Regions from separate parts of the Homo sapiens genome. Here region 1 is linked to region 2. The links come from fine-mapping of genetic effects on gene expression. A gene starts in region 2. The other region holds a variant in brackets. All regions are shown on one strand. Distances are between the middles of the regions. Region 1 overlaps ASTN2 (astrotactin 2). Region 2 holds the start of ASTN2 (astrotactin 2).

Region 1 (5,377 bases), 710 kb before region 2:
TAAAAATTCTGAAATAATATCAAATTTTTCTCCCCTCAGAAGCCTACGCCAAATAAGTGCTGTAATCTTAGTACAACTTTGTAGTACAGTCAGACTCATTTGTTGATGTCTGACTGGCTGAGTTTTTAAAACCTATTATTCCCCCTTCCGCCCCATATCTGGACATGCCAGTAAGAAAGCTCAAATGCTTCCACCTTTGTGCCTGGTGGAAGTTCAAACCACCTAAGAATCCTCACTGCAGCCCTACCTCCAAGCCACTAGGAAAAGCCAGGCTCCTCTACTTTCCCTGCTCAAGCCATTTCTGGACCTGCTTGAGAACTCGCTGCTCTCTGTAAAAGCCTCGTGTGAGTGATAAACCTTTTCATATCTATTTGGTCCTAATGTAACATCAGTCCTAACACCTAAACCAAGTTTTGGGTAAGGGGTTCAACCTCTCCTCTGTGGGATGACTAAACACTTTATGCAACAAGCAGAGGGTCTAGGAGATGACCACTACCACTGCAGGGCTCTCCTCTTGCTTTAGTTTGCTAACTGACTCTTGCTGGCTAGAATTTTTTTTTTTTTTTTTTTTTTTTTGTCACTGCTGGCAAGCTCATGCTTTGTGCTGTGCTGCTTTGTACTGCGTTCACTGAGCCTTACCAAGCTTCTGTTATAGATGTGCTCAGCTAAGTTGGAATTTTTGATAATTGGCATTTAAGAACAAGAATAAAGTGGCATTTAAGAACAAGATTAAAGTGGCCCTGGGTCATGTGTCTTGGTCGAGACTTACCTGTGTCTCTGAATTGTGTTTCTGGATCCCAGTGTCAGCTGTGACTGTCACGAGGCTCAGAGGAATGACTCTTACCCTGTGACTTTTGGTTGTTTATCTCAACCAGGTGTTGCCCTCATTGTATGGCGTACTCAAAAGAAACAGTCATACCCTATGCAATATGCAGGCTGGTTGGTAGTCACTCATGGACGAAGACCATGTTGAATGCTATGGTGCACACTCCCAAAAGCAGATGGTTTACTAGGACTTTACAAAATGCCTTTCTTCCTACTTCTGCCTATGCCCTATGCCACTATGCCCCCTGACCAAAAAAAAAAAAAAAAAAAAAAAAAAATTCCTGATCCTAAGGGTTATAGGGAAAAGCATCCATGCTATAGCCAAGGAGTTCTTTCAAAGCCAACTTAAGCACTGGGTCCTCAAACCCTATAAAGCAACTGTTGGCACGGGAGAGAACCTAATCCTGATTATATGTATTTGCAACTCTGGAGGAAGAATCTTACACATATGAGCAGGATCGAGAGGACCTTCCCTCCTCCCCAACCCCTCCCCACACCACCACCAAATGATATACGGTAGCCACCAAAAGGAAAATAAAATAAACTTGGATACTGGGGGAAAGAAACAAAAAACTAAAACAGAGGTTCACAATTTGACCCAATTGGAAATCCAAAATTAAAGAATTTTTGCAACAACAACAAAACAAGATAAAAGGTTACTATTTGGCTTTTGTACCTCTACAACCTAGGTTCCGAATTAACTTTTAACATTTGCTGAAATGCACCAGTTGTCAACCCTTCATAGCCTTAATATTGGGCTTCAAATTATACCTGGAATTCCCCTAAATTTAAACAAAGTACCCCTATAATCTTAGGGTAGTTAACTGAGGATATTTTAGGACATGTTAGGAAGACAAATAGATATGCCTCATCTTAATCAGAACTATTGCCCTGCCTAAATTCCCCCATAGCCATAGCACCCATTAACTTAAAATATCCCATAGTGGGCATGGATGCTCTAACCCAATGAGTAATAAATTAAAATTGAATTAAGTCTTTGGCACTTACAAATCAGCTTGCCAAAATGGGACGGCATGGACCTTCCCCTCCTCCGTTAGTTAAAATAGTTAATATGGCCCAATTTAAATTAAAACAGAGTCTTTGAGGTTTGAAACCCATATACCAGACCTATTTGGAGAAGAGTGACTATCCCCACTGCTTCACCATTAATGGCCCAATGTAGCCTGTTCAGAAACCTAGAAAGAATGAATGGCATCTCACAGTAGATTATTGCCATGTTAATGCTGAAGTTCTATCCAATAAGGCTCCCATATCAAATATTATCAAAATTACTAACTTTAATCAACAACTGGTAAATACTTTTAATTCATAGATTTGGCTAATATTTTAGCAGCGACTCAGCCACAATTTGCCTTCACCATCAAAGGGATGCAGTATCCTTTTACTCAGCTACTCATGGGATAACAACAGCCAGGTCTTCACACAGCCTGCAGACAAGATCTTGACCACATTTAACTTTCTTCAGGAGCACAGTAAACACTGATCATACTGATCACATCATCCTCCAAGAAGGTTCATTTGGCACACTCACTGAGGACACATATAGTCATAATCATAAAAGAGCTCACGAAAAAGGGATGGACCACTACCCCACACAAATTACCAAGTCCTTCCACCTTGGATA[A/C]ATTCCTGAAAGCTATTTAGCTGAGGGCCATTCTATCCCTGACACTTGCCAGAAACAGCATTCGCAATTTTTTTAAAAGCCCAATATGTTTTAGTCTATTTTGAGTTCTGGAGACAGCATATTTCTCATTTACAAATTTTACTTAAACCCGTTTATACTATTACTTAAGCTCACTTATGAATTATAATACAGGCACTGCAATTAGTGACCCCTGAGAGTCCTTTACTTAAAGGCTTTAGCAACCTCCTCCCATGATTCCTGAAGTCTCTGGCCCACACTTGATGGCCCTAAGTTGCCCACAGGCATCTTGTGCCATAAACTGTCCCTTCAGCCCCATGCTATATGCCATTAGAGTGCAATTGCTGGCTGCATATTGGACTCTCCTGGAAACAGGCTGGTTGTCACCGGCCCTCAGCCTGTGACTCTCCATACCAGCTGCCCATTATCCCTTGGGTCTTGAAATCACACCCTAAAAGTTCAACATAGCCACTGAGGTTTCCTTGCTGTAGCATAGAGCCAAACCTGGCATATTTCACCTATAGGAAAAAGTCTCCCACCACCACCCTCAGCCCCTTGCTAAATACCATGGTGCTGGTAAAAGTCATCCCCCTTCCCAGACCCTTTGGATATCTGTGGAAGCCCTTGCAATCAACAGAGTGAAGAGTAAAGGGAGTTTCTCCACTTTATAGATGGTATCACTACCATTGTATGTGATGGAGCTTGCTGGAAAGTTCCTGATTTTTAGCCCATAACTGGGACATCCCTGATAATGAAACAGGACCCAAGTCAGCACAACTGGCCAAACTTTATGCGGTCCTTTTAGCACTGAATACCCTGACCAACATCTGCACAGTTCTATAGACTGTTGAACCACTGCCAGTGATTTGCTCATCTGCTCCAGCCAATAGCAGCAAAAACAGTTTTCTATCCAAGGTTGCCTCTTTGGGTTAAATAACTCTGTGACTCTCTTGCCTCATATATATATACTTATACTCAAAGTATAAGTCAAGGTCATTTCTACTCACAATAAATCCACAATAAAAGGCCTCATTAACACTTTAACCCCTTCAGTAGTCTAGAAATTATTGATAGTGACTAAGGCATTCATTTCACATCTCAAAATACATAATATTGGGCTCTTGTACAAGGCATTTAATGGAACTTTCACCTCCCTTACCAGCCTCAGGCTGCAGGCCTCATAGAAAGCCATAATGGTTTATTTTACCTAAACAAGTTCAAGTTCAATTAAATGAAACATGCCACATTTCAGTCATCAGTCAAATATCAGGGATGAATCGTAATAAAGATTCTGACTCCATTTTTGGTACTTGACTGCTAACAACTTTCAAATTCTTCTACTTACTCCCTCTTCTTCAGCTTCACATCTGGGAAAACTGATAGGGAAGCCTAGGTAGGCCTACCTTTGGTGCCAGAGGGAAGCTCAATCCATGCAAGCCCCAGATAATATATGAGAACCTCCCCAACCTTACCCTACACCCCTCACCTCCCAATCCAAGCCAGTCTCCTTTCCCTGCTTTCTCAAACCATGTTTGGACCTGTTTGGAAGCTCCCTCTGCTCTCCCTAGAAAGCTTCATTATGTGAGTGATACATCTTTTCATATCTTCTTGGTGTGTGTGTGTGGTATCATCAGCCTCAACATCTGAAGCAAATGTTGGGTGGGGGTACATCCCACTACTTCTGAGTGACAACAGATGTTTAGAGTTAAATATTGAAAGAAATTTCATATTACGATAAATGACAATTTCAGACCAGGTGCAGTGAGCTCACGCCTGTAATCACAGCATTTTGGGAGGCCAAGGAGGGGGGAATCACCTGAGGTCGGGGGTTTGAGACCAGCCTGACCAACATGGAGAAACCCTGTCTCTACTAAAAATACAAAATTAGCAAGGCATGGTGGCGCATGCCTGTAATCCCAGCTACTCGGGGAAGTCTGAGGGAGGAGAATCACTCGAGCCCAGGAGGTGGAGGTTGCGGTGAGCTGAGATCACACCATTGCACTCCAGCCTGGGCAACAAGAGTGAAACTCCGTCTCAAAAAAAAAAAAAAAAAAAAAAAAGAAGAGAAAAAAGAAAGAAAATTTTGTAAGTTCTGAGCAACCACATGAATAAAGCCATGTGTTTTGTGAAATGACGTTTAATATTTAAACTTAAAACTAGTAATAAATCTCTAAATCTCTCAGACCCCAAGATATGAAACTTGTTTGACACATTTAATGATTCTGTAAAAGTGTAAGAAATGAAGTTAAATGAAGAATGTCATGGCCTGAAAGGATGGAAAGGCATTAGACATGCATATTACCTTGCCTGATCCAAGACTCAGGGACTGGATATAGAAGAATGAAACTTCCATTAATTGATACACTGGAAGAAAGGCCACATACAAATAGGCAAATATACCGTAGACCCTGCATAGAAGGCTAATTAGCTAAATGTAAGGTGCAAATGCTCAAGCAACAACCCTGAAAGTGTGTATTCCTCCTTTCTGCTCTGGCGACTATGCCTATTTATTCTCCTCAATGAAATGGGCATATTAACTCCAGCCTATTTAATATGTACTACAACTACTCTTCAATGCCCCATAACATTTTACACAAGTAAAAGCTGCCTAAAAATGAGCAGCATAGTCAGCCTCTCTGAATGAAATAAAATGTCTCTAAATAAAATGTCAGAAATAATACAAGGTATGGCAGCAGGAAAGTAGCTTAAGAAAACAAATTGCAAAAGGGAACATTTATTTTTCTTCTGGACGATACCATCTTTTTCTATGACTTCAATCATGTATGCAGCTACATACCAAACTGTATTTTTCATGTCTTACCTTCTTTTTGATCACCAGATTGGTGTATACCCAGCTGCCCATTTTATATTGCCAGTTGTATATACCTT
Region 2 (5,377 bases):
AATAAAAATCCCACGTCTCCCTACACAGCTCCTGCTATACCCAGCCATCTGGTGACTACCTCGCTAGCCAAATCCCCGTTGAGAGCGCCTAAAGCTGCCAGCCCAGGGCGCTAGGGGGAAAAGGAGGAGGCAAGAACCCAATCCCCCGCATGCATCCAAAAGGCTCAGCGCTGCCAAGGAGGCCAGCCCCGTGCTCTCCAAGGGGCAGAGGGTCCCAAGCTGCCAGGCTCAGGGACCGTGCATCAGAGGAGGGGGAAGTCTCCATGTGCAGGTTGTTGCCAGGAGACTCTCAAGCAACACATGGGTCCTGGGGGAATCAAGACTTCTAATTCCTCGCTCAGGTCCTCACTCAGCTTGTCCCAGGCTCACAGGCACCCATCCTGTTTGAAAGCCAAAGTTAAAAATGGCAAAGATTGTCAGTTCCAGGAATCCCGGGGCACCTATACAGATGGTTGGAGCAGGTCCTCCATATCCTCGAAGACTTGAAATGCTCTGTGGTCCTCACTGCCAAGTCAGGCCATACCCAAGGACCGTCTCATCCCTTCACTTGAATGGCCGTTTGGGGGGCGGGAGGATTTCCACCCCTCATCTCTCAGAGTACCCCGGAGTAGAGAGATCTAAAGGATGAAGGGAGAAGGTCAGGAATGGAAGTGGTAGTGAAGGGATACCTTCTGTGTCTCTAGAAAGACCCTTCCCCACGGGGAGGTGGCAAGAGCCAGCTGTGAGCCTGAGGTTAGTCCGGCGGCGCTCTAAGGAACACCACCTCCACCCTCCTTCCCTTTCTCGGACATGGGCAGCCCCACAGGTGCACGTGGGAAGAGCTACTGGTTTGTGTGTGTCTGTGTGTGTGTGCTTGGTGCGTCGCACCCCAGAAGCGCCGCCGCGGGGAGTCCCCGAGGAACCTGCAGGACGCTCCGCTGCCTCTCCTCCCGGAACGCTCGGCACGCTCAGGTTACAGCCTGCGAGGGTGGGTACAGGGGCTCGACCCCCGAGGTTCAAGCTCAGAGCGGGAGAACCACTGGCACTCGCTCAAATCCCCAGAGGTGGTAGCATGAAAGGATGGGGAGTGGGTCACAAAAATACTTTTAACAATATCAGGGCTACCAGGAGAGTGGAGCGTAGTCCGCTGATTATTCTGTGGGTCTTTTCAGGCGAGCAAGGAGTTAACCTCGGAAGTTCAGGGATCGTAAAGGTTCTCACCTGGAAGGCCCCTCACCTGCGGTGCCCGAGGCGGATCCCGCCGAGGAAAAGACCCGGGGAAGAAGAGCTCCGGGTCTGGGCGAGCCCCTGGCGCCTCACGGGCGCTGTTGTTGGCCAGACTCCGACAACCAATAAGGCCCCGCGCCCCCAAGAGGGGAGGGGAGAGCGAGCAAGCAGCGAGCGCGGGAGAGCTAAGGGGAACAACATTTTTGTAAACGCTCTCCGAGATAATTAAGCTATCAATTACCCGGGTGGGAAATCAGCTGCGCTTCCCACAGCTCCACTGAAGGGCCGACTCCTCCGGGATTCGCGCAGGGAACCAGCAGGCAGCAAGCTGCTGGCGAACTTTTCTGATTAACTTTTCCGTTGGAGCCCCCCACCCACACCCATCTCCTCTCCTCTCCTTTTTCTTGCCTTTAAGTAATTATTATTAGCCCAGGGAGTGAGCTGCAAGGACAAACCGGCTCTCTGCCTGGAGGTGGGTAGAAAGGGAAGGCGGTAACGGGGGTAGAGGGAGGCTCTAAACGTGGAGACCTCGGAGTCGGAATCCCAGTTCTCAGCAACCACTCAAGTCTCTCCAGCCCTATTTCACAGATGGCCAGAACTGAGGCTCAGAGAAGGGAAGCGACTTGGCCAAGGTCACTCAGCCCATGCGGAAGCCACGCTTTTGCGGGTTGAGCGATTCCACACGGAACTACTCCATTCCTACTCTCATGAAAATCCATCTGGAAGGGCAGAACCCGCAACTCCGAGGCGAGAGCGAGGGGGCGGTGACGGCGGGTGGCCAGTGACGGTACCCGGAGAAGTGGGAGGCTCGACCTGAAACTGGCTTAGGATCTGGGATGCTCCGGCCCCTAGCCAGAGCACCTTCAGTGAATGGGGTCTCCGGCTTCCGGGATGGATCAAGCAGAGCTCCAGGTCGGGACTGAGAGGCAGAGGGGCAGGTTCCCACTGCGGGAGGGTTGGCACGCCCCCAGGCTCCCGCCGCGCGCTCTCCAGGACCTCCTCCCACATGCTCGTTTCCAACCACCTGTGCGACCTCTGGGCCCCTCCTCTACCCTCTGCCAACCCCACTCGGGGCAGCCCCGGGCAGGGATCCCCAGGGCGCCCCCACCCGTCCGGCATGACGCAGGGGCTCGGGGTTCCTTGGGATCTAGCGCGTGCCGGCGCCCAGCCTTACCCAGGGTGAAGAAGGGCAGCTCGGTGTTGTCCAGGTCGTCCTGCACCGCGATGCGCCCCGGCAGCTCGTTACGCACAAAGAGCAGGAGGCGCGACTCGGCGGCGGTGCCGGCAGAGCCAGGAGAGCCCGGGGACGCGGCGGCGGCGGCGGCTCCGGCCCCGGTCCCAGCCCCGGCCCCGGCGCGGGCGCCGCTCCAGCCGATGTCGCTCTCCCGCAGGGCGGGCAGTGTGGACACCGTGACGGTCTTCAGCCGGCACGGGCTGTCGGGCTCCCGCGAGGCAGCGGCGGTGGCGCCGGCCAGCAGCGGCGGCGGCGGCAGCAGGAGCAGGAACAGCAGCAGCAGCGGCAGCAGTGGCGGCGGCCCCGGGTGGAAGCAGAGCCTCGGCCGCCCCCGGAGCCCCGAGCCGGGGCCGGGGCTGAGCCGGGCGCCGGCGGCGGCCATGGCGGGAGGGGCTGCGGTGCTGCGGGCGGCGGCGGCGGTGGCGGCGGTGGCGAAGGAGGAAGAGGAGGCAGCTGCGGAGACGGCGGACGCCGAAGCGAACCAGGACGCCCGAGCTAAGGAGCGGAGAGAGCCGCTCGCCAGCAGCCCCCAGCTCCGGGCTCCGCCTCCCGATCGGCCCTGGACCGCCCCCCCGCGCCGCCTCCCGGGGCCCAGCCGCCCGTCCCCGATCTCCGGCTCCCCCCGCAGACCCCGAGCGTTTCGGAGGCTCCGCCCGGCCTCGTGCAAGTCCCAGTGGCTCCCTCCCCTTTCCCAAGATCCCCCAATTCCGCCCTCACAGCATTCTTTAGCCACAACACCCCTCCCTAAACTCCCCAAATTCCTAATACTTAGGGCCCCCTCGGGCCCCCCCAAGCCCCCCTGACTCAACCCAGTTCTCCTGGCTTCACCCCACCTTCGGCTCAACCCAGAGGCTGCACCTGGGGGCGCGCCTTGGCCCAGCCTTGCTCAAGGCCCCGCCTTCTTGGGGATAGGGAGCCCCCTGGATAGCCAAGACTTAACTTTGTCTCCCCTCAGGCCCAAGAACAAGTCCTTTCTCCAATCTCCTACCCTTTTCTAGTCTCTGAAATAACTTCCTGTAGCCTCAGAGCCCCCTTCCCACCCACTTGGCCACAACTCCTGCATTCATTCTCCCACTGCCCGCAAACCTTCCTCTCCCCTCCATCCAGGCCTTGTGCTAGCACTAATTGCTAATGGACAGAGGGGCGTCGAACTCCACCGTCTAACGCCGACCCCACAACTGACTGAAGCCGGGCTGTTCTGGCCCCCTAGCTGCCGCCCTGCAAGCCAGCCCACTCACGCTTTTTTATTTTGGATCCCTGCTCCCAGCTTGGAGCAGCTCTACTTGGCTGCTTCTGCTCTCTGTGTGAAATTCCTGAAAAGGGTGTGAGGTAGAGACCTACTATTCTGTCTGTCCTTGGCTCCCGGGTCTTTTAGATCCTCTGCCCAAGTCCCAGAGAACGGGAGTGCTCACCAATTCTTCACCTGCAGTCTTTCTAGACTCAAGTTGAGCTAGGTCCTCAGATTCAGCACCCTTTGGTCTTGGGCTGACTCTGTCTCTGACCCACATACCTGAGACCCTCCAGGGAGCGGACACCTCTGCATGGGTCAAGTGCCGTGCAGCCCCTTCCCCACTCCCCTACTTTTCTTCATCTTCCCTGTCTCTGTTTTCTGTTTCATCTCTCCATTCATTTCCTTCCTTCTCATCTTGACTTTAATCTTACAAATGCTTCTTTCCTATAATTTGTGAGCAACTTCTCATCTCTGTCTAGCTTACCCATCTGCACCTTTTGTGCTGTCTCTATGCATTCACTTTTCTCTTAGCTCTTCCCTCTTCTGTCTCATTCCCCTTTTCTATCTTTAACCCTTCATATAAATTGCTTTTCTCCTCTCTCATCATATATTTTTTAATAACGTTGGATAAAGGCAGAGCACTGAAAATAAGGAAAAAAGCAAAAGCTGTTTTGCGACCTTGGACTTAATGTGTTTAAAGCATTCTCCAAATGCTAGACATGTACGTATGTTAGCTTTTTTACATGACCATAATCCAAAAAGATGGATATTATGATTCCCATTTTCCATGTGAGGAAACTGAGATCAGGTGGTCAGGGAGGTGAAGGGATTTTCCAAGGTCGTATAGCAAATGAGCTGAAGAGCTGAGGTTTGAACAGTAGGCTTCAAGCCTTGACTGTTTCCCTTAAATTACACTGTCCTCAGTGACCTTGGAAAACCCCACCCATCAAAGATGCTGTAAAAGGTAAATCTGCATAAGCACAGTTGGATCTACTTCCCTGTGAGGTTTGTAAGGTATACTTCTCCTGTCTCAGTTTACTAATCTGTGAACCCAAAGGATGTGTGGAGGTTGGGGTGGAATCTGGCCTTTCAAGTCCTCTAATTCTAAATGGTCTCCTGCCTCTCTGATGCCTGCTCTAGTTCATTTACTCCTCCAAAATATGTCACCCTGCCTCCCTCAGTCTCTCCTTTGTGTCCTTACAATCCGCCACTATCCACCGCAATGGGGCTTTCTGATTCTCTATGCCCCTTTCTTCAAATATGCTGACATAGTCCATTTACAGAAGAGCACACCAGGAAAAAAGGGCTCCCTTATGTAAGGCAGAGTCTGTGCAAGTCCTTCATGGACCTCTAGTACAAAGGCCTGTCAAATGAGACCAACACTTTCATTCATTCATTCATTCATCACCAAATATTCAGGGTGCCTACCAGGTGCTATATGGAGATGCAGGGATGGATAAACACAACTCCTGCCTTTGGAAAGCTTATAATGATTGGGGTGAGGGGGTGGGATGCCGGAAAGAGACAGGCACATAAATATCTCAGGTAATGGGCAGGCAGGCAGACATGTGTTTCCTAAGATGAGGTACTTGGAGAAATCAAAGAAAGCTTCCCAGAGGCGGTGGCTTTGGAATTGAACCATAAAGATTAGTAACAAGGGAGTGGGCATTCTAGGTTAAAGTTGGCATTTGGCATTCTTTGCAACT

What was found. PIP is the estimated chance that this variant, and not a neighbour inherited with it, causes the effect.
Region 1: its variant is the best candidate, but not a certain one, in a credible set for the expression of ASTN2 in whole blood (TOPMed, PIP 0.86).

Annotation. Positions count from the first base shown.
Region 1 is chr9:116,706,210-116,711,586 of GRCh38, forward strand. All of the region lies in intron 16 of ASTN2 (astrotactin 2), which reads right to left. Among named protein-coding and RNA genes, the nearest start is that of TRIM32, 22 kb to the left of the region's middle. The variant A/C (reference allele first, on the strand shown) is at 2,471.
Region 2 is chr9:117,412,117-117,417,493 of GRCh38, forward strand. ASTN2 (astrotactin 2) reads right to left here and starts at 2,941. Exons shown (of 23, transcript NM_001365068.1): 1 at 2,381-2,941. The coding sequence starts at 2,822.